Linked DNA regions of Homo sapiens. The protein of the gene in region 4 purifies or fractionates together with the protein of the main gene of each other region. This does not show direct contact. Each region holds a gene or a part of one and is shown on either strand. Other genes may lie near its edges.

What was found.
Region 1: the proteins of AMTN (region 4) and SEC24D purify together in Homo sapiens (affinity purification with mass spectrometry; one large-scale study listed by BioGRID and IntAct). This does not show direct contact.
Region 2: the proteins of AMTN (region 4) and RABL6 purify together in Homo sapiens (affinity purification with mass spectrometry; one large-scale study listed by BioGRID and IntAct). This does not show direct contact.
Region 3: the proteins of AMTN (region 4) and SERPINB7 purify together in Homo sapiens (affinity purification with mass spectrometry; one large-scale study listed by BioGRID and IntAct). This does not show direct contact.

Annotation. Positions count from the first base shown.
Region 1 is NC_000004.12:118,724,248-118,729,862, reverse strand, and holds part of SEC24D (protein transport protein Sec24D), read left to right. Parts: intron 1-1,212; coding exon 1,213-1,302; intron 1,303-5,615. UniProt on the Homo sapiens protein: Component of the coat protein complex II (COPII) which promotes the formation of transport vesicles from the endoplasmic reticulum (ER).
Region 2 is NC_000009.12:136,833,776-136,839,988, forward strand, and holds part of RABL6 (rab-like protein 6), read left to right. Parts: coding exon of another isoform or gene 1-184; exon of another isoform or gene 185-644; intron 645-1,966; coding exon 1,967-2,070; intron 2,071-3,570; coding exon 3,571-3,887; intron 3,888-4,086; coding exon 4,087-4,240; intron 4,241-5,133; coding exon 5,134-5,346; intron 5,347-5,446; coding exon 5,447-5,711; intron 5,712-5,918; coding exon 5,919-6,090; intron 6,091-6,213. UniProt on the Homo sapiens protein: May enhance cellular proliferation. May reduce growth inhibitory activity of CDKN2A.
Region 3 is NC_000018.10:63,780,972-63,787,184, reverse strand, and holds part of SERPINB7 (serpin B7), read right to left. Parts: intron 4,831-6,213; 5' UTR 4,813-4,830; coding exon 4,645-4,812; intron 1-4,644. UniProt on the Homo sapiens protein: Might function as an inhibitor of Lys-specific proteases. Might influence the maturation of megakaryocytes via its action as a serpin.
Region 4 is NC_000004.12:70,529,167-70,534,217, forward strand, and holds the end of AMTN (amelotin isoform 1 precursor), read left to right. Parts: intron 1-17; coding exon 18-44; intron 45-1,872; coding exon 1,873-2,134; intron 2,135-3,288; coding exon 3,289-3,299; 3' UTR 3,300-3,577; downstream 3,578-5,051. UniProt on the Homo sapiens protein: Is a promoter of calcium phosphate mineralization, playing a critical role in the formation of the compact, mineralized, aprismatic enamel surface layer during the maturation stage of amelogenesis.

The DNA.
Region 1 (5,615 bases), about 48 Mb from region 4:
TAATGAATTTTTTGCTTTCCTTACTCCTGTGAAAAACATTGACCATAAACTTTTCCTGACACTTGAGGTTTATGGTGAAACATTCTAACTCACATGTTCTCTGGCCAACTCACAGTGATGCATTGGCTGTTGGCATCTTCTTGCTGAGAAGCAAACATTAGCATTTTACTCTGTCTTAACGGAAGAAATGTAAGTCAAAATCCTTCATATCACCTGGATGCCACGTGCAGCTGGATTGGCCTGTAGACCACTAACCAGATTTCTGGGCTATCTAAGACGCTGCATTCCCTTTGAGAAATCAACATTTGGTAGTTTGTTTTAATGCCGGAACAGTAGTACTTGGATGGAATTTTCCATCCACTGAAGGAACAAAGTACATTCTTTTCTCTCGCAACATAGCCTTGAATCTTGAAAAGGGATCAAACTTTCACAGGAAGTTGTTTGCATAAAACATATACTATTGTCTCTTGGTATCCATGGGGAATTGGTTCCAGAATACTCTATAAATTAACAGATGCTGAAGTCCCTCATATAAAATGGCATGGTATTTGCATATAACTTGTACATATACCCCCATATATTTTAAATCATCTCTAGATTACTTATAACACCAGCTGGGCACGGTGGCTCACACCTATAATCCCAGCACTTTGGGAGGCTGAAGCGGGAGGATTGCTTGAGTGCAGGCGTTCAAGACCAGCCTGGGCAACATAGTGAGACCCTCTCTCTATCAAAAAAAAAAAAAGATTACTTATAACACCTAATACAATATAAAATGCTATGTAAATAGTTGTTAAACTATATTGTTTACAGAATAATGACAAAAAAAACCCAAAATCCATGCCTTTTCAGTACAGATGCATTTTTTACAAATAATATTTTTGTCTGTGGTTGGCTGAATCCATGGATGCAGAACCCATGGATACAGAGGGCTGACTACGTCTGTGCTGTATCATTTCAGTGATGTACATGTGTCAAATTCCAGAGGAAGAGTTTTTTCCAAAAGACAGAAATAATTGTCTTCTGTCAATTATGGGAATGGGTGCCAATAATTTTTAGTGCATTTTCCCCACAGTTTTGGTTTTCAGGTAATGAACTACACCAATGTTCAAGTACATGGTTTTATGTTTTTAACATTATGATAATCTCATATTGCTACTTCTATCTAAATGTTATAAACTGTACTAAAACTTTGATTTTCTTAAATCTAAGACATTGCTGCCTGAAGTGGGAAACCCATACTCTCAACAACTCAGAATGATAATGGGTATTATCCAACAAAAGAGGCCATATTCAATGAAGGTAAGAAAGCAATTTTATTTTTCCCTTTATTCAAATGTTAAAAATTTCATTAAAGACTTAACATGCACACCCTATATTTTTATGACGTGATCTTTGATTTTAAAAACTCACACCATCACAAATCTAAAATAAAAGTTAAAAAAACCTCACATTAACCTCTAAGTATATCTACCTACTTACCAGTCACAAACATAAATGGCTATTACCATGGGTTAACTATGGGGTATCTTAAGTCAGTATTAACTTCATGATTTAATAGCAATTGGTACCATTAACAGACTTTGAAGTGACTTTTCTTCTGGTGCCTAAAATTACTTAATTATAAAAGTATCATTTAGAACATTTGTAAAATTTGATTTATTACAATGTTTAATTTATAATCTCTGAAAAGTTTTGTTATTCTTGTCCTTCCAAGCCCTTCTAGCCTTTTCTGAGTTTGAGTAAAAAATTTTAATATGTCTAGAACCCAAGAAAATTATATGTTGTTGCCACGTTCCAGATACTTACTTGTTTTCCTTCCCAAGCTCAATATTAGAGTCTCCTGGGATCTAGAATGTATAGATGATGATGATGTGCTGTGTAACACTGCTTACTGAAGAGCTATAAGACACTCAGCTGGAGGCACGTGTCTACAAGTGCCAGGGTATTTATGGGGCCAGTTGTCTCCTGAAATGTAAATGTGATGTCAATCTGAACCAACATTCGTAACTGTGAAAGTAACTCATGCATGCAAACATCAACTTTAGGTAGAGCTTAGGTAAATTGAACTAATGACATCTGGATGAATACACAACTTTTCTAGAACAGTTTTCACACCACACAGCACCTATGGTTCAGTTTAAGGGCAGGACCTAGAGATGACAGACAAGGCTCAAACTAAACACATTCTCTTAAGATTTGGTTACACGTTTTTCTAGGGCATTCTCTCTGAATGCCCTAGAAACATGTAACCAAATCTTGAGTCTCAGGAAATGCAAACTGAAAGCCACTGGTATTTAGAATGCACAGCAATAATGATTCACCTTCATCCCAGCTGCAGCAACTGCATCCCTCCAACTGGGCATTTGCAGAAAAGAGGCAAGACTAAGCATGGAGATCATCCTTGTGCTCAGTAGTTCCTCCTTCAGGGAAAAACATTAAACTTTCCTCTGCTTTCTCCCACCTGTTCCAACCACTTATCAAAGTTATGTCAGCTTTGGTTATAAAACCATCTGGGGGTGAGCTTCAAATATTATATGTGAATAAAATATTAAGCACCTGTGTGATAAAACAATTTTAGCTTGAATACTTAAAGAATCAGATTTTCTTATGTACTATCTGCAAATGTATCCATCTGTTCATAGAGTGCTATCTCTATAAAGAATTAGAAATATCTAAAATCTACAGATGTCAGAGTTGAAAGGAATCTGGGAGATACCTGGCTTCCTGTAGCTGCACATCACAGACATGAAAGTGAGGCTCAAAGGAGCTCACTAGCTTGGTCCGGGTCTCACAACTGGATCATAGCAGATACAGGGCTTGTACTAGCTGCTTAGTCCCAGTGCACTTAGCATTCCACCCTTTCTCTGACACTTGAAAACTGACTAAACAAAGGAAATGAAAACATACTTTTAAAGGGTTAAGATTAGGTAGGAGAAAAGAGTTGGTATGGAAGGATCAAGAGTAACAAAATCAAATCTAGAAGGAACTGCTACCTTCCAGGTTATGCTAATTACTTTTTCAAAAACAGTCCTCTTAGACCTTATTGTCAGATTATTCTCTGTGGGGAACAACAACAAAAAAAGATTTCTACCACAGTATATCTACAGATGACCGAAACCAAGTGCCTTCCTGAGAAATTCTAGTCCTGCCCTGCACAGTTCTCTGTGCTCCAAATGTTTTTTATTCTCTCTCCTTCCACTTGTATTTTCTAGATTATTCCTTTCCCATTGGCCCTTTTCCAGTTTACAAGCTGTTCAAATCTACCTTCATAGAAGCTGCCACTTCTCCAAGATTCTGCTTCCCTTTCCTCATTCATTCTACAAATATTTATTGAACACCGGCAATATACCAAACATTCTACAACCAAGCTCCTTGAAAAAGTCTATATTAACTGCTCTTTCCTTCTTCTCATCTCTCCACTTCTCTGTAAACTGCCAAATTGCTAAAGACAATTGATTCTCAATCCTTTTATGCATTTACAAGGTTGACTACTTCCTCAAATTCTCTCCTGTCAGCTTTCAAAACATCCCCTGCTCCTGATTCTTCTTTCTCAGTGACTCTTTTTCATAGGCTTCTCTTCATTCATCTGCCACTTAAGAGTTGGTATTCCCCGAGGGTTGTATCATGGCTCTCTTCTCGCTCAACATGTTCTACCTGGGCCTTCCTAATCACTCCCATGCTTTAGCGATTCCCTGTGAGTCAGCCAATGAAAGATGAGATTGGCTTTTGAAGCACATTAATTCTTTAAGACCTCTGGTAAGGTGACCCAGAGAATGTCACATTCAGAGTTAGCCAGTCTTCCCTTGGAGAAGGCACACAAGAAGCAAGGAGGTGACAAGCAGTGATTATTTTAATGTTCTCTTCCTACTCTATAGGGCCATCCCCCTCCCTTTAGAAATGTAAAGCGGGGAAATAAAGATGGATCTACCAATCCATACCAGTATGCTTTCCTTTTATTGGTGTGGGTGTGCCCCTTGAAGAGACGACCATCACTGTGTCAAGACAGGCCAATACCACTTCCATGACTCCACTCCCCTGAGACCTTCCACTATACTTTCTGTGTCATCCTGACACCTGTAGATAATCAAATGGTAGGATAGGATATTAATCACTGTAGCTTAAAGCTAAGTTTCTCCCAAGGCTGACATTCATTCCCTGTTCTACTTACCACCTCAGCTCATAGCGAGACACTTTTGTCAGAGGAGGTTGTACAATGAGCACCACACAAAAACAAAAAAAAAAACCCAAGTGAATGGCAGCAATAGAAAATACCTCAGATGAGCAATCTGACCTTCTTTCCATTAATTTCCATAAAGAAAGTAAATTCTAAAGAAATTGGAACTTCAAGTCTTTCCTCCTTCAATGTCTTATCCTGCCCAGCCTCAGTCTGAATTGTGTCAGAGGCTAGACCCACACTGCCCCTACCAATCATGGACAATAGTAAAGTTGTAGTGGCATGTGGGAGAGGGTGGATAAAACATAAAATGAAAAGAATCCTGACTTCAGGTTCATCAGGAGGCAAATCTTAAACTTCTTTGGAGAAATCTCATTAAGGGTTAGTTTTGCTTCCCCATGTAGGAGTGGAATCTGCCTATGCACACAGCTATTCCAGTGCCAACTCCCAGTACCTAGAGCTGACACCCAAAAGCCAAGGCATCACACATATCTGTATCCACATGGAATTAGCTGAGTTGTGGCAACAGCAGTTGTTCTTATATATTATTATTTTTACTAGGTCGGGGCAACTTAAAACCTAACAGACTTGGATCCAGGCCGAAACGTTATAAAGGAAAAAAGCAAGTGGTGTTGACAGAGTTACTCTCTGCTTGATAACTAAAAAGCATAGAATGCAAAAGTAGGGAGGGCCCTGCCCTCCTAGCCAAAATTGCACATACCTTCCCTGCTGCAGCTGGTGAAGCAGCTAACTGCATGTGTTTCCCTATTGCAGGCCTTTCTGGTGGGTTTACCTCCTGAGAGGAAGAAGTGAGAAATACCCTCGCTCCTCTTAATTACACAGGAGGCAGGTGGAGAGGCATTGTTGTGCATGTGTGGCTCAGTTAACCCCACTTGTGGCGCAATAAATATGAAATTATGACAATTCAGATCATCTACCTTGACTTCCTCAAGTAGGAATACAGGTGTAGAAAGAAGGGTTCAAAGTGTTCATGACAAAACTGCCTCTCTTCTGGGCTTCTTCCCTGTGGGTTTCTTCTTAGAGCAGCACTCTCCAGTAATGCAAATGAATATGCAATTCTGTGTTTTCTGATGACTGCATTTAAAAAGAAAAAATTCATTTAAATAATTAATTTAACCCAGTATATCTAAAATATAATTTCTATATGTAATCTGTATCAATTATTGAGATATTTTTATATTTTATTTTTCATACTAAGTCTAGAAATCTATTTTTTTCTAGAATCTTATATAGAAAATATAGAAATCTTATATTTACAGCACATCTCAATTTGGATGAGCCACATTTTAAATGCTCAATAGTATGTGTGTCTGGCTGTTGTACTGGACAGCACAGGTCTAGAGAATCATGATGAGCAAAGGACAGGAGTTCTCCCTGTTTTCCCTGTGTGTTAACCTCTCTAGCATCTCTCCAATCT
Region 2 (6,213 bases), on a different chromosome or scaffold from region 4:
AGTGAGGATGCCTGCAGGCTGGGACTGCTGCTGGGGACGTTTGGGTTGGAAGGAAGGCGGCAGTCAGACTTGTCCTGTGCCGGCACTGCTGGGGAGGCCCCTCCTTCCTGCAGAGCCGTCCCCTCATCACTGGGTTGATTACTCCTTAGAGAGCTCCCCACTGCTCAGCTGCTCCATTCCCTAATGGTTTGCCCTCCAAACCCTTCCAAAGCCTCCCAGGGAGAGAACGGGACCCTGGACAGAGTCTTGAGCTGGAAGCGTAGGGCTGAGCTGTGTGTGACTATCCTTTTGCTATGGATGTGTTCAAGCAGATCTGATGTCCTCGCCTGTCTCAGCAGCGGGACCCCTGTTTCCTCTTTGTCTTGCCCCTGGATTGCCTGGAAGCAAATTTCAGGCCTTCTTTATGTCACCTAAAAATATTTCAAACACATCTCTAAAAAAATCAGTTGTTTTTTTAACCTGACCGTAGTACCTAATGTAATACCGCATGTTAAACTCACAGAAGGTTTTTCTTGGAGAAATAAGCCACAATAACAAATTGAAAAAATAAAATTCCCAAAGAGTTCTTCCAGTCGTCAGATATTTGGTCAGTATTCAGAGTAGGATCCAGAGTTCACACATTACATTTGGTTGACAAGTCTGTAGATTTCTCTTTGTAAATCACATTTTTTTGTTGTTGTTATAGCCTGGGGACCTTAATGACTTTAATACACTCTTTTTTTTGGAGACGGAGTCTCACTCTGTCCAGGCTGGAGTACGGTGGTGCAATCTTGCCTCACTGTAACCTCTGCCTCCTGGGTTCAAGCGATTCTCCTGCCTAAGCCTCCCAAGTAGCTGGGATTACAGGCGCCTGCCACCACGCCTGGCTAATTTTTGTATTTTTAGTAGGGACGGGGTTTTGCCATATTGGCCAGGACGGTCTCGATCTCTTGACCTCGTGATCTGCCCGCCTTGGCCCCCCCAAAGTGCTGGGATTACAGGTGTGAGCCACCACGCCCAGCCTCACATTTTTATTTTAAAAACCTCTCCAGGCTGGGCGCAGTGGCTCACGCCTATAATCCCAGCTGTTAGGGAGGCAGAGGTGGGAGGACAGCTCGAGCCCAGGAGTTCCAGATCTTCTGCCTGGGCAATATAATATAGCATGACCCTGTTCTAAAAAAAAAAAAAAAAAAAAAATCTCTGAAAAAGATGATTCAAAAAAAAAAAAAGGAGAGGCCAGGCAAGTAGCTCAGGCCTGTAATTTCAGCAGAGGCCAAGCTGGGAGGATCACTTGAGTCCAGGAATTAGAGACCAGTCTGGGCAACATAGCGAGACCCCATCTCTATTTAAAAAAAGAGAAGGGGCCGGGCACGGTGGCTCCCGACTGTCATCCTCGCACTTTGGATGCTGAGGCAGCTGGATCACCTGAGGTCAGGAGTTCGTGAGGCTCCGGCGTTTGTATTTCATTTGAATCTAAAGTGAGCAGCCACAGGGACCCGCAGCTCATCAGACCAGCCTGGGGTTCCAGGCCAGGAGGGCAGTGGTTTGCTCCAGAGCCAGCTGCTTGTGGGTGTGGGACGGTGGCGACGCGTGCACCGGGGATGTGTCCTGCCACCAGAGGAGGTGTGCGTGGCGGGGAGCAGAGGGGCTTTGTTTCCCAGGTGAAGGTGCGGCTTCTTCACTCTTAGAGGTGCGTGTGTGGGTGGGGGTGCTTGCTGTTGAGGTTTATGCCTGTGACTGACAGCTGTCCCCCAAGCCATGCTGGCAGTGTGTAGGTGTCGTGCCGGCCACCGCAGAGGAATCCTCTGGGCTTCTGTGGTTCAAGTGGGGCCCAGCGCAGAGCTCCATGAGTTGCTGAGCAGCCAGCCCTGCAGCATCTCCTGGTTTTGGCAGCAGGAGGCGTCCCCTGTGCATTCAGGGGCTGTGGGGCTGGGGCACTCGCAGCAGGAAGGAGCCCTGCTCAGGCCTGCGTGCTCCCTTTCTGCAGAGGGAGACGCTGTTGCGGCAGCTGGAGACGAACCAGCTGGACATGGACGCCACGCTGGAGGAGCTGTCGGTGCAGCAGGAGACGGAGGACCAGAACTACGGCATGTATGTGGCCGGACCCGCCCGTGCGGGCGGTGTGGGGGCTGCGGGCGTGGCCGTGGTGCAGGGCCATGGGCTGCACCAAGGAGACAGCAGAGGGGAGTGTCCCCTGTTTGGGGTAAATTAGTCACCTTTGGGCACGGGTGGAGGAGGACTCAGGTTTGCACTGCCCCCAGCAGCCCCCCCACAGTCACCCCTGGCGTGGACTCCTCATACAGGTCATGCTGTGCCTGCCACTCTGAGTACCGCTGACCGTGGCCAGGTGCTGGTGCTCATGGAGTGCTGCTGGGGCTGCCTGCCCATCAGGGGCTTGGCCTCCCAGATTGATGCCAGCATGGGGTGTGCTTTCTGGGGAGCTGCTTGACTTTGGGAAGCTCCCTGTGTTGAAGAGGCATACAGGCCAGGACATGGAGGTCTCTGGTCCTCGATAGCAGAGGGCGGCTCAGAGCATCCTCCTGAGTGGGCCTGGGCAGTGCATAGCCCCGGGGTTGCGGCCAGTGGGACAGCTGGCCCGTTCTCTGCCTCAGGCTCCTGTACAGCTAGGGGCTTGGTGCCTCCCCTGGGACCCAGGCAGGGACCACGGAATCAGTGGCCCTCCTGAGGCCCCCCAGGAGGTCTCTGTTTCCAGAAGGAGAGCCCTGTGGGTCACCTTGGATCTGGCTGTTGGCTCAGACACAGCAAGAGACCGAGAGGGAAGGCAGTTTGATGCCTGGAGAGGGACCCGTGGCTTCCAGCTGCCAGGCCAGCCCCAGAATGGAGCCCCCCGCATGGGCGCTTCTCTGTTGAACCAATCCTGGCATTTCCTGGGCCTGAGAGTTGGGTCAGCTGGATGCTGCGATGGCCGCACGTGCTCCACCAAGCCCCAGCCCCCTCCTCTTCCCAGAAACCCCCGCTCACGGGAAGGTCCAGTTGCTGCCATCTGGCCACCTCTGCATGGAGCCCCCAACAGCTGTGCCTCAGAACAGATCCGAAGTGACTTTCAGGGGAGCTGGACACATGTACGCTGGTGCCTGCTGTCCCCACCCTTTGGCACTGCTGCTCTTTCTTTTTCTGAGATGGAGTCTCGCTCTGTCGCCCAGGCTGGAGCGCAGTGGTGTGATCTCGGCTCACCGCAAGCTCCGCCTCCCGGGTTCACGCCATTCTCCTGCCTCAGCCTCCCAAGTAGCTGGGGCTACAGGCACCCGCCACCACACCCGGCTAATTTTTTTTGTATTTTTAGTAGAGACGGGGTTTCACTGCGTTAGCCAGGACGGTCTCCACCTCCTGACCTCGTGATCTGCCTGCCTTGGCCTCCTACAGTGCTGGGATTACAGGCATGAGCCACCGTGCCTGGCTGGCACTGCTGCCCTTGGAAGTGGATGGGGATGATGGCCTCTGTGGGGCGGGTGGCCCAGAACACAGTGGCTCTTCCCAGCCCCAGCAGCAGCAGCAGAGAGCCCCCTGTCACCTGAGGGCCTCAGGGAGAGGCAGGGGAGCCAGGCTTCTCACCCGCCTTCTGCCTTTCAGCTTCCTGGAGATGATGGAGGCTCGCAGCCGTGGCCATGCGTCCCCACTGGCGGCCAACGGGCAGAGCCCATCCCCGGGCTCCCAGTCACCAGTGGTGCCTGCAGGCGCTGTGTCCACGGGGAGCTCCAGCCCCGGCACACCCCAGCCCGCCCCACAGCTGCCCCTCAATGCCGCCCCACCATCCTCTGTGCCCCCTGTACCACCCTCAGAGGCCCTGCCCCCACCTGCGTGCCCCTCAGCCCCCGCCCCACGGCGCAGCATCATCTCTAGGCTGTTTGGGACGTCACCTGCCACCGAGGCAGCCCCTCCACCTCCAGGTAGGCCCTGGAGCTGCCCCTCCCAAACTGGTCCCAGACCCCCAGGCCCTCACAGGTGGGGTCCTGGATTTCGGAGCGCTCCACGCTTCTTCCTGCTTGTCCCAGTCCCGTGGGCACATCCCGGGTGGGCCTGGCTTGGGGTTGGGTGCAGTGAGGGTTCTGGTGCCGAGTGAAGAGGACCCGGCATCACTGTTCACAGAGCCAGTCCCGGCCGCAGAGGGCCCAGCAACGGTCCAGAGTGTGGAGGACTTTGTTCCTGACGACCGCCTGGACCGCAGCTTCCTGGAAGACACAACCCCCGCCAGGGACGAGAAGAAGGTGGGGGCCAAGGCTGCCCAGCAGGACAGCGACAGGTGAGGGGTGGGCCTGGGCCTCCTCTCCCATTGCCCCCCAGCCTCCAGGGTGCCCGAGCAGCAGGTGGGGCTGGCTTTCTAGGGGCGCAGAAGGGGCCCCCCGCCGGCTGGTCACTGTTGGCTGAGGACAGAGCAGCTCTGTGGCTGGAGCAGACGAGGGAAGGGCTTGGACGGGGCTTCCAGACATCAGAAAGGCCTGGCCACCTGCTCTGCCCACACCCTGGAGAGGACAGGGGCACCTTGGGGTCTTCTGTGGGCAGATGCCACATGGAAGCCATTGGAGAGGCCACTGCAGGTCATATGGGAGGTTCAGGCCACCAGATGTGGTCTCCACAGGGCCAGGATCCAGGTGCTGCAGAGACAGGGGCGGCTTCCTGCAGGTCCTAGAGCTGGGAGCTAGAGCCGCCTCCCCAGCCATCTGCCAGCCCCTCCCACCACTCTGTCTGCCAAGCTGCCCCAAATTTTGCCTGCAGCAAAGCCCTGCATTTGGTCCCAGGACAGCCCTGGACAAGCTCCACCCACAGTGGCCTCAGCACCTCAGCCTCACCCATTGCTGTGGGGCAGCGGCTTCCTCCAGAAATACACAAAGGACAGAAAGCCCCGTGGCCCTGAGCTGGGCCCGCCTCCTCCACGAGCGCCCACTTGTGCGGCTCCACATCCTTCACCCACTGAGCGGCCGCAGGGCAGCACTGTGTCCAACCTTGTGCCCCCGACCCCTTCCTGCTCAGAAGCCCTGTGACCATGAGGGGGCCTCTCCACAACACAGCACCTGGGGTGGGGTGGCCCCACGGCCAGGGTGTGCTGGGTACCAGGGCGCCTAGAACCAAGGCCCGTGAGCCCGGCCAGCCATCCCTACCCCGTGGCCCTTGACCGCTTTGCCCCCTGCTTTGCAGTGATGGGGAGGCCCTGGGCGGCAACCCGATGGTGGCAGGGTTCCAGGACGATGTGGACCTCGAAGACCAGCCACGTGGGAGTCCCCCGCTGCCTGCAGGCCCCGTCCCCAGTCAAGACATCACTCTTTCGAGTGAGGAGGAAGCAGAAGTGGCAGCTCCCACAAAAGGCCCTGCCCCAGCTCCCCAGCAGTGCTCAGAGCCAGAGACCAAGTGGTAAGGGCAGGTGTCCCCACGGGTGCGGCCTGGAGACCCGGGTGGGGCAGTTCAGGACGCCTCCAGAGGACCCTGACTGACCCTCTGCTTGTCCACAAAGGTCCTCCATACCAGCTTCGAAGCCACGGAGGGGGACAGCTCCCACGAGGACCGCAGCACCCCCCTGGCCAGGCGGTGTCTCTGTTCGCACAGGTCCGGAGAAGCGCAGCAGCACCAGGCCCCCTGCTGAGATGGAGCCGGGGAAGGGTGAGCAGGCCTCCTCGTCGGAGAGTGACCCCGAGGGACCCATTGCTGCACAAATGCTGTCCTTCGTCATGGATGACCCCGACTTTGAGAGCGAGGGATCAGACACACAGCGCAGGGCGGTAAGACGAGTCCTCCCGGGGCAGAGGTCAGCCAGGTGGCCAGGGTCCCTCCCACAGGCCTGATCTGGGTGGGTGCAGTGGGAGGAGGCTTCTGGAAGAGGCATCTCATGTCCCCACACTTGGGCCTTGCCGGCCTGGTTTGAGATCCCACAACCCCTGGGGGTGTGGGAGGGATGATGGCCTGACCAGTTGCTCTCCCTGCTCCAGGATGACTTTCCCGTGCGAGATGACCCCTCCGATGTGACTGACGAGGATGAGGGCCCTGCCGAGCCGCCCCCACCCCCCAAGCTCCCTCTCCCCGCCTTCAGACTGAAGAATGACTCGGACCTCTTCGGGCTGGGGCTGGAGGAGGCCGGACCCAAGGAGAGCAGTGAGGAAGGTGGGTGGGGGCACCAGAGTGCGGTCAGCCTGCTGGAGTTTGGGTAGAACGTGGGCCTCCTCCCAGCTGCTGGCCGCTGGCCGGGGTCCTCTCCTGAGTCCAGGATGCTGTGCCATGCTCCTG
Region 3 (6,213 bases), on a different chromosome or scaffold from region 4:
AACATGACGCAAGTAGAAAATTCCATATGTGACCTCATGTGATGTGTCACGGTCAAAACTTTGTTTCATTAATAAAAAGATTTAAAATGTAGTATAAAATTACCTTCATGCTATATGTATAGGTTGTATATGAAACATAAATGAATTTCATGTTTATACCTGGGTCTTATCCCATCTCATGTATAAACAAACTTGCTGAAATCTAAAAAAATCCCAAATGGGAAAAAATCCAAAATCCAAAACACTTGGTCCCAGGCATTTTAGATAAGGGATATTCAACCTACAGTAAATATTTATGTGTGATAAATATTAGATAAAACTTCAAAGGGCTTGTTTATCACAATTCTTCCTCTTCTTACTTTTCTTATCTAATTCTTTGGTGTTTCTATCTGAAATACAAAGTGTGCTATACTTTCATGTTCCCTCATGTGCTTATGTAGGGAAATCAGAATTTTTCTTTCTGATAAATGGTTTATGAATTCAGATGATGGCAATGAGGAAAATCATGAGTCTATACAGTCTAAGAAATTTCAGGACATTTGGATTAAGGATTTTTTTTAAAAAAAAAGATACTATGAATCATCCTTGGGCTTCTACCTGCATATTCATGCCAAATTATGAAACTATTATTTCGTCTTAGAGAGTGGTAGAATACGTAATATATTATAGTGATTATTTTTAAATGCTTTTTGTAAAACTCAGTTGCATTTTAGAAAATACAAATTTGTACAACTTTTAAATAATATTGTAATCCAAACATAACTTTAGAAAAATATATATATGCGTGTGTGTATACGTATATATTTCATAATGTATTTCAATGGAAACGTTGAGAGAAGGAAGTCCAAACATATGGCTCTCATACATATATAATCCAAACGTGTAATCCAAACTATATATAATATATAAAATAATGCATTTCAAAGGAAATGTGTGGATGTGTGTGTGTGTATATATATATATATATATATATACACGTATGTGCCATGCTGGTGTGTGTGTGCCATGTGCCATGCTGGTGTGTGTGTGTGTGTGTGTGTGTATATATGTATATACGTATATATATACATATATACATATATATACTTATATTATATGTATATATGTATATATAAGTATATTATATATACATATATTATATATATGTGTATATATACGTATATTATATATGTGTATATATACGTATATTATATATGTGTATATATACGTATATTATATATGTGTATATATAAGTATATTATATATGTGTATATATACGTATATTATATATGTGTATATATACGTATATTATATATATATATAAAGCATTTCAATGGAAATGTCTTGTGAGAGAAGAGAGGAGTAAGTAGCTTACGAAATAGGAAAATCACTTTTTAATACTTTTATATTCAAACACTATAAGAAAGAACAGCATTATTAGATCTAAATGAAAATAAAAACACACACAAAAAAAACAAAACACAACAACAAAAAGAAACCATGAGTCTGAACCCATGACTTTGTCAGTAAATACGCTTTTCCAGCTCTTTCACTCAAATGGTGAGCAGCCTTCATGGCACTTCAACTGCATTGAACCTCAAGCACACTGATTCTTGACTTTAATCAAGTAAACATATATATTTACTCTATACTATATATTTAATAGAGTAAATGAGCCAGAGTTTCATGAGGAATAGCTGAGCTCCTTTTGGAGCTAAGATAACTCAAGACAAGCCCAGAACGTCTTGTCAGAAAGCAAAAATATTTTAAAGTTATTGGGAAGGATTGTTTAAAAAGATTGGGTTAAAGAGATATCTACTGGCGAAGCTATGACACTTTGAGCATCAAAAAGAAAAAGAAACACAGATCCATGGGAATGCTTAAAAGAGACACACAGATGGAAGCCATAAATTGAGCCGGGATTCATTTAAAATAGAAATGTGTGATTTATGGTGACAAGGGTCGAGTGTAGTAATGAGAAACCAACTGAAGCAGGGGAGAAGCTGAAAATTAATTTCCTAGAAGACATTTACAGAGGATTAAAAATGTGTGCAGATAAATTAGATGAATGTTTTTGTGTCTGTAGTTGCCTTTTCTCCTCTTACATGTTTCTTCATGCAAGATCATAATAGTAAGAGTTATAAAAAGTCACACATGAGAGTAATTGATGAGGCAGTAAAGAGTACAGAGCAAACTCCAGCAGAACAGCAGCTCTCTCAGTTCACCATGACTCATGAGCTGTTGACCCTGGCCCACCAGGCATGAGGTGCAGGGCAAGGAGACTTCAGAAGGTGTACCAGACAGGAGCTGAAAGATTGCTCCTGACATGAAAGCACACAGTAGGTAAGAGCCGTGTGTCTTCTGTTGCATTAAAATCAAGCTTTAGTCATAGGCATGGTGCCTGCACATCATTGTCTAACACATTGAACAGTGACAACTGTAAGGTTTTTTTCTTTATTTGTTTTATCATCAAATCAGCATCCTCCGTGCACAGGTGAGGACACTAGTGCCCACAGAGATGACATGATTTTCCCAAGGTCAGATCTTCGACCCAATCTTCTAACTCCCAGACCAAGGCTATGTTTCCATGATACCAAATCATCTCACTTGGTTCTGAAACATTATGCATTTTTATGAATGAATAAATTTTTATTTGTTGAATGTTTTTCAAGGGCTTTATATTTATTTATCAAAATACCCACTTTAAAATACTGAAGCTTCACAGTGATGTACTTTGAGCTATATTTCAGTTTGGTGGCTTCAGAGCAGTTCTCAACTGGAGACTGATTTTGCTTTTGAGGGCATTCTTTGGAAATATCTGGAAATGTTTTTGGTTGTCATGATGGGGGAGGGGTATGCTGCGGGTAGTTGTTGATGAGAGGCCAGGAATGCTGCTAAATGATGCATAGGACAGCCCCTCACAACAAAGATTTATCCAGCCAAAAATGTCAATAGTGCCAAAGTTGAGAAAACCAGTTGTAGAAGATCATCCTGAGTTTGAATCTCAGGTCCGCCATCTACCAGCACACAGTATGGTCACCCCTCCATAAAATCAGGGTAATATTCCCACTTCAGTGTGTCAATGTGAATATCAAATAAGATCATATTCTTAGGGCTTATCCCAGATCCTGAACACTGATTAAGTTCTCAGCAGATAGTTGTTACTATCATCTCATTAAAGTGTTGTATCCTATGTACTAGGTTGTAAACCGCTCTAGCGCTTGAAAAAAACAGCAGTCTAAGACTCTGTAGTTGTTCTCTAGCAATTAATATTTACTGAGCTATTCAGATAAAGGAAGGAATTATTCTAGCTTAAATTATCCCATAAATGGTTTTCCATATGACCTGAGGTATGACAGGTTACAACAGGCACCAGATTCCTCTGGCAAGCCCTTCAGAACTAAAATAATGGGAGGAATAGTGGGGCAAGAGGTGGGCACAGGGAGGTGGGGGCAGAAAGGGACGACATCAAGGCCTCTGCATGCAGCCTGGACCTGGCATCTCACCTGCTGTTGAGCTACTGAGTTTCAGTGGCAATTTTCTGAGAAGGGAGGGAAACGACCATTCCACTTCCCTATAAAGTGCTCCCAGAGCTGTGTGCACGGGTGTGTTAATAAGCACTCCCTGAAGGTGGCGGTGAAGGTGGTGATGATGACAATGTGAGGACTATTCAGGTAGGCTGCTATTATCTGGAATGTACTATGATGTTTTTGTGCCCCGGTAACCAGTGCTTAAACTGGGATGTCATTGGAATCTCCTTCTAACTCTCCTATCTCAACTGTATCTACTCAGGCAGTGGTTTTCAACCCTTCATGTGCACCTGGAGAGCTCATTAAAACCCAGAGTGCTGGGTCCAACACCCATAGTTTCTGATTCAGTACTTCTGGGGTAGAGCCCAAGCATTTGCATTTCTTTCTTTCTTTCTTTCTTTCTTTCTTTCTTTCTTTCTTTCTTTCTTTCTTTCTTTCTTTCTCTCTCTCTCTCTCTCTCTCTCTCTCTCTCTCTCTCTCTCTCTCTCTTTCTTTCTTTCTTTATTTTCTTTTTGTTTTGTTTGATCGTTTGTTTTCTGAGACGGAGTCTCGCTCTGTCGCCCAGGCTGGACTGCAGTAGCGCTATCTCGGCTCACTGCAAACTCCACCTCCCGGGTTCATGCCATTCTCCTGCCTCAGCCTCCCGAGTAGCTGGGACTACAGGCGCCCGCCACCATGCCCGGCTAATTTTTTGTATTTTTAGTAGAGACGGGGTTTCACCGTGTTAGCCAGGATGGTCTCGATCTCCTGACCTCGTGATCCGCCCGCCTCGGCCTCCCAAAGTGCTGGGATTACAGGCATGAGCCACCGCGCCCGGCCAGCATTTGCATTTCTAACAAGTTCTCCAGGCGGTGCTGATGATCCTGGTCTGGGAAACACACTTTGAGAACCACTGCACTGAGGGAAAACATCAAAGCTGCAGTACTTGGAATATTTCTGCTGCCTCTTGGCTCAAAAACAAGTACTGCAAGCTGTGTGCTTTCTTCACACCCAAAGAGGGCCTCGTGGAGATGTGTGAAGATGTGACACCTTGTGCCTCATGATGACCTCCATTAACATGGGGACCATTGCAACGAAATGTTCTCGTGGGAAAAACAATTTGTCCCAGTGATTAACTGCAAAAGCTGAGACTGACCTTATCAATCTGAGAGAGGGAGTCATCTTGAGCGCCCAAGCGGACCAGGGCCAGGGCAGCGAAGAGGCTCAGAGAGGAAAAGAACACATTTCCATTTCCTTGATTGTCATCCATCTCTCTGAACAGGTTGAAGCAAAACTCTGCATTTGCTGCAGCAAGGGAGGCCATTGCAAAATGGAGTGCAGCCTAGAGGACAATGAGAAAATGAAATTAGTTCCCGGTACATTTTCTAGGAATATTATATTTTTAGATTTATTTATTTTTTATAATTTAAAGCTTCATTTTTTTTCAGCCTTGGAGGTAATCATCAAATAACTCTAACAAAAAGGGAAAAGTTCCCTTGGCCCAGTATCCTTGTCACTAATACCCTAAAACTATCTCTTCTCGTTGGTGGACATTTCTGTCCTCAGTGGCCTGTGAGTGGCCTGTTTCCAACCCCCAAGCAGACACATTCATGGGGCTCACTATTTCTCAAATCACCCCAGATTTCTGAACTGAAATAGAGCAAAAGTAAATATTACAATATTAGACAGTCTATTTGAGGCACTACAGCCTTTGCTTTCTAAACCATCTGTAATTCAATACAATGTTAAATTTTTGAGGTTTAACACATCATTTTTAACCCATTCTTTCCATTAAGGCCTCTGTAAATTCTTAGAACAATCATACATTCTATTTTTTTTCAAAACTGTCCTAATTTTAAGTATTATGCATCATTGGTCCCATAAGTGCATTAATTTGTTTAAAACCATTTTCTGATTTTTTTGGAATGCAAAGTGTGATTATCAGAGTATGTATCAAGAACATGTACAAGACTTTTCAACACATAGGCCTATTTCTTCCTAGAGAACCCAGGGTGCAGTAACAAAGTGGAGATTATCTTCAAATTCATGATGTTGTTTCTGCAATACAGACGGTTGCTACCACCATGGAATTCTTCAGGGATCCACTTGGGTAATTTTTTTTGCAGAATTTCTCCTCAACTCAAATTGATCTCAAAATAGCAGTTGGGGTTGTCTCAGACTACATGAACTTACATGAATTCTCCAAATTATTCCTCATGAATGTCCAATGATATTACATCTGATGGTGTGGCAGGTGCCAGGTGTTGCAGATGCCAGGAGTCACAAACCCTTAGGGGACTTCATCCAAGTCTCAACCCTGTTGCTAATAGTTGTGTGAACTGGGTCAAGTCTTTAATTTCTCTGAACTTCTAAGTTTCATCTTGTTCAGTGAGATGATCTATGTACAGGATCTAGCATAGCGATTCTCAACAGAAAATCATGCTTCCTTGTACCTTTTGCTCCATAAGAAGAGCACACATAGGCATCTGGGGACTGGCATGTTGTGGGTGAGGAAGGGGGTCACAAGGAGGGAGAGCCATGCAGTCTGAAAGAAGAACATTCTAAAATTGCCATTGTGTTGGCTTTGTCACAGTTGCAAATACTTAAGGCCTTTTAAAATTGTAAATGAAATTAAAATAAGTTTTTTAACTTTTATTATGTCAAATGGGAGTTTGAGTTAAAAAATTAAAAAAAAACTTTTCTAGTACAATGCATGATCCAGAGT
Region 4 (5,051 bases):
TGTCATTTTGCTTTTAGGGCACTATCCTAAGCTCAGAGGAATTGGTAAAAAAAATAAAAATACTATTTCAAATTATTTTCACTTCTATCACAATGTTTTCTGTCCTCATATAGTCTCTTTTGACCATAAATCCTAAATATGGTATGTACTACAATGAACTGAACATTTTTATAGTTCCTTACATTAGATTATCCTTTCTTTGTTTGGGGATTTCATTATACTTCTCCAGCTACTTTTCTATTAATTTGACTTAGCTTTTGTTTCCGTTTATTGCTATCAGATTCAGTTCTATCCAGAAAGGCAGTGCACATTTTTTAACTTCATAAGGATTTCAGTCTAGGATTATAAACTATTGAAATGTATGCAAATGTAGAATAACATAAATATTGACTTTTTACAGGAAAGATTAAATTCCTTGACTTGGATATTTAATTTTTATGGAAAAATATATCTTTTTCCAGCGTCAGATAGTGATAAATGAACTCTTTCCTACACACATAAATAATTGGAGGGCTGTACCTAAATATAGTTCATATCACCATTGCTAAACACTTCTATGCATTCCTCCATAGGTCCTTTTCTAGAGAAAAGGACTTGAATTAACATGATATCTAAACATGACAACAGTACAGAATTGAGGCAATATTTGGGAACACAGTTATTCAACAGCTTTTCTATTATGGAAAATGTAGATATTTTCTATATTGTCCATAAATAATCATCAAGGAATGGGGCTAGTGTCTGTTTTGCCAACATTGATGCATGAACATCCATATCCAGCTACTGAAGGTTCTTCTATATAACCAGCACTTTAGCAGATCCTTTACATATGTTGCTTTCAACCTTCCCCAAAGCACAAAGCAGATATTTTTGACCCAGCTTTACAGATAAAGAAACTGAGGTTAAAAGTTTAAGTAATTTAGGCCTCAAAGGCAACAATGAGAAGAAAAGAGTGGATCCAGATCCAATGCCATTTTTTAACCTACTACACTAGTGGTTTTTCAAACATTTTTAACACAACTCACAATAGCAACTACATTTTTCATGCAGCTTAGCACACACACACACACACACACACACATTCACGAAACAGCATTCACCTTTACTATATAGAATGCACTACTAGTCTACTGCCTGTTTTATTGTTTAATGATGACTGACACTCACCTTTTTTACTTCAAAACTGTGGATATCACAACCCTCAGTTTGAAAACGTCTGTACTCTGCTCCTATCTGTCATCCAGCGTAAGTCTAATTCTGGTTTCAATATCTCTTAAATGTAACACAGTGTTTCCCAAACTTCATTCCTTGCCCAGCAAATCAGGATGGCATCAAAAGCTGGTTAAAAAGGCAGATTGCTAGGTCCTGCTCCAGACCTGCTCGATCAGAATCTCTCTAAAAATGAAAAACTCCAATAGACAGGAATTCTTTATGTATCTTCAAGGAACATACAATAGCTGAATTGCCAGGATAAATGTTTCTAACTAAGTATTCCAATGCCTTTGAAAAATACATCAAAAAAACTTGAAGGGATGAAAGCCATCAGGATTAATCTACTTGAATCAATTTTTCCATTAATTTTTATGCTCTTATTTTTTGAAAAAATGTTATGAGCAAAAGAAAGATTACATGTTAGGTTTAATAATATGTAATTTATTTCTGAGGGAAATGGAGCATAGCAAAGAGTCCCAGTATTGAATCAGACTAGGCTGGACCAAGGGTGTATTTCCCCTGAGGAATGCCAGGTCTTTGCTGTCTTCTCTGACTTTACTCTCTCCATCTTTCCATTCCTACCCAAACTTGCTCCCCTTAAAAGAGAAAAGAAAATGTGTTGCTTTTAACTTTGTTTTCTGTTTGCTTCCCTCATTCCAGCCACAAATCTTCACGAGCCTCATCATCCATTCCTTGTTCCCGGGAGGCATCCTGCCCACCAGTCAGGCAGGGGCTAATCCAGATGTCCAGGATGGAAGCCTTCCAGCAGGAGGAGCAGGTGTAAATCCTGCCACCCAGGGAACCCCAGCAGGCCGCCTCCCAACTCCCAGTGGCACAGATGACGACTTTGCAGTGACCACCCCTGCAGGCATCCAAAGGAGCACACATGCCATCGAGGAAGCCACCACAGAATCAGCAAATGGTAAATTCTCCTAGCTTGGAACATGCTTCTTGGCTATAAAAGTCATCTGCAGAATGGAAAAGAGGAGTTCTTTGTCTTGCCTTGACAAATGCAGATCTTAGTAAGATTAGGAAGCCCCTTTACTCACTCACAGTTAACTCCAGCAACATGAGGGAATATTTTTACTCAGCCACCAACCCCCAGGTATTAACACTGAAGGAAGAATTTGTGTGAGTGTTTTTGGTTGTTTTGAGACAGGGTCTTGCTCTGTTGCCCGGGCTGGAGTGCAGTGGCATGATCTCGGCTCACTGCAACCTCCGTCTCCTAGGTTCAAGCGATTCTCATGCCTCAGCCTCCCAGTAGCTAGGATTACAGGCGCACATCACCACAGCTGGCTAATTTTTGTATTTTTAATAGAGACAGAGTTCAACCATGTTGACCAGGCTGGTCTGAAACTCCTGACCTCAAGTGATGCACCCACCTCGGCCTCCCAAAGTGCTGGGATTACAGGAGTGCGCCACCGCACCTGACCATACAAGCTAATTTTTGTATTATTTGTAAAAACGGGGTTTTGCCATGTTGCCCAGGCTGGTCTAGAACTCCTGGCCTCAAGCAATCTGCCTGCCTCGGCCTCCCAAAGAGCTGGGATTGCAGGCATGAGCCGCCATGACTGGCCTGAAAGATTTTTAATTGTTGGCATAACACATGTTCCATTTTGGGTCAGAACTGAAAATACTTGAAAGCAGAATGTGTTCCTTGCCCCAATACACACACACGCACATAGAAGCCTATAGGAGACACACTTCAGTTCATCATGACCCTGTCTCCACTCACTGATGGAGCCTCAGAACCTTCCTACTGTAATACTGCAAGCAGCCACTAGTGATTACCTACTGTAATAGCAGGCACTAGTAATAGCTAGCAGAGCAGATAAACCCATCTGCCGTTCTTAGATGGAACCTAAGAAATGTGACAAAAATAAGCTTTTCTTGCACCCACAAGCAAAGTTAATTGCTTAACATGTGAAAATGTCTAGAACCAAATATCCTTAGAGATAACTAAAGAATGATATGGATGCTCCTAATCCTGCAAAAGAAACTTGGATCTCAAGTAAAAGATATTTATGTTAAATATACTTTTTACCTACATTTAAAAGGTGTTTTATTTTCTTCCAGGAATTCAGTAAGCTGTTTCAAATTTTTTCAACTAAGCTGCCTCGAATTTGGTGATACATGTGAATCTTTATCATTGATTATATTATGGAATAGATTGAGACACATTGGATAGTCTTAGAAGAAATTAATTCTTAATTTACCTGAAAATATTCTTGAAATTTCAGAAAATATGTTCTATGTAGAGAATCCCAACTTTTAAAAACAATAATTCAATGGATAAATCTGTCTTTGAAATATAACATTATGCTGCCTGGATGATATGCATATTAAAACATATTTGGAAAACTGACTCTTTTTCTTCTTTGGAGATGGAAGAAAGTTGGCCCTTACAGAAACTACATTTCCTCAGGGCACTAACATGATACTCCAGGTCTAGAACTTTCTTTGGAAGTAGGAAGCACAGCAGTCAAGAAAGGGACATCCAGCAATGTGAAGACAAATTCTGGTCTCTTCACAGTTACCTCATCATTTGCTTTCTTATAAGAGTCACAAACTTAATTTTTAATAAGCAGAGTACTTTTGAACATCTAAAACATACAGTACAAAGAATTACAAATCATAATTCTGCCTATCCTCAAGTGTTTATATTCAGAACTCATGATAATGGCATTTAATGTTTAATTTTGGTATGCTTGAGTGTGAAAAATGGCATTGAAAAAAGTAATCATAATCACTAAAACAAACCAAGGTGATACTCTTGCTCCATTCACCTAAAAGGTAGAAACTAATCTGATTTAAACTTATAACAGACCATTGCAGTTCATCTATAGTGAGGGGGATTAATATAAACTGCAGTAGAGCCCCCCAAAAAGAAAGGTATGGATAGGGTTAATAACATTTCTCACTATATACGGCTCAACTCCATCAGTACGCAACAAATGGAAATATGCACCATGAAATATATTCCATGTTTAGTGTATCAGGTGGTTACAGATTTGCTAGTGGTTAATGATTTATTAGCCACCTTGTTTCAGATATGCAGAAGCTGAATAACTTACTTATAAACTGTCAATATTCATGACCAAATGAGAGTAAATTAGTATTCAAACTTCCAAAAATATTTTGCCACTTGTGATAATAATTAAAAGTGCTAATAAAGGACTTCCTGGATAACCATCTATCAAAAAAATATTCTTTCAGTTAGGAGACTGAAGCAGGAAGATCTCTTGAGGCTAGGAGTTTAAAACTAGCTTGGACACAATAGGAAGACCATATGTCTAAAAAAAGTTTGAGAAGTTATCTGGTATGTACCTGTAGTCCCAGCTCCTTGAGAGCCTGAGGCAAGAGGATCATTTGAGCCCATGCGTTCAAGGCGGCAAAGAGCTATGATCGCACCACTGCACTCCAGTCTGGGCAACAGAGCAAGACTCTGTCTTTAAAATAACTAATTGATTAATTTTTTAATTTTTTTGAGCCTCATTTTTTTAATCTGTAAAATGGAGGCAAAAATCCCTGTCATGTTCAGGCACAGTGGCTCACCGCTGTAATCCTAACACTTTGGGATGCCAAGGCGGGTGAATCACTCGAGCCCAGGAGTTTGAGACCAGCCTGGGAAGCATGGTGAAACCCTATCTCTACAAAAATAAATAAATACAAAAATTAACTGGGCATGGTGGCATGCAACTAGAGTCCCAACTATTCAAGAGGCTGAGGTGGGTGGATCATTTGAGCCCAGGAGGTTAAGGCTTCAATGAGCTGAGATTATGCCACTGCACTCCATCATGGATGACAGAGTGACACCCTCTCTCAAAAAAAAAAAAAAT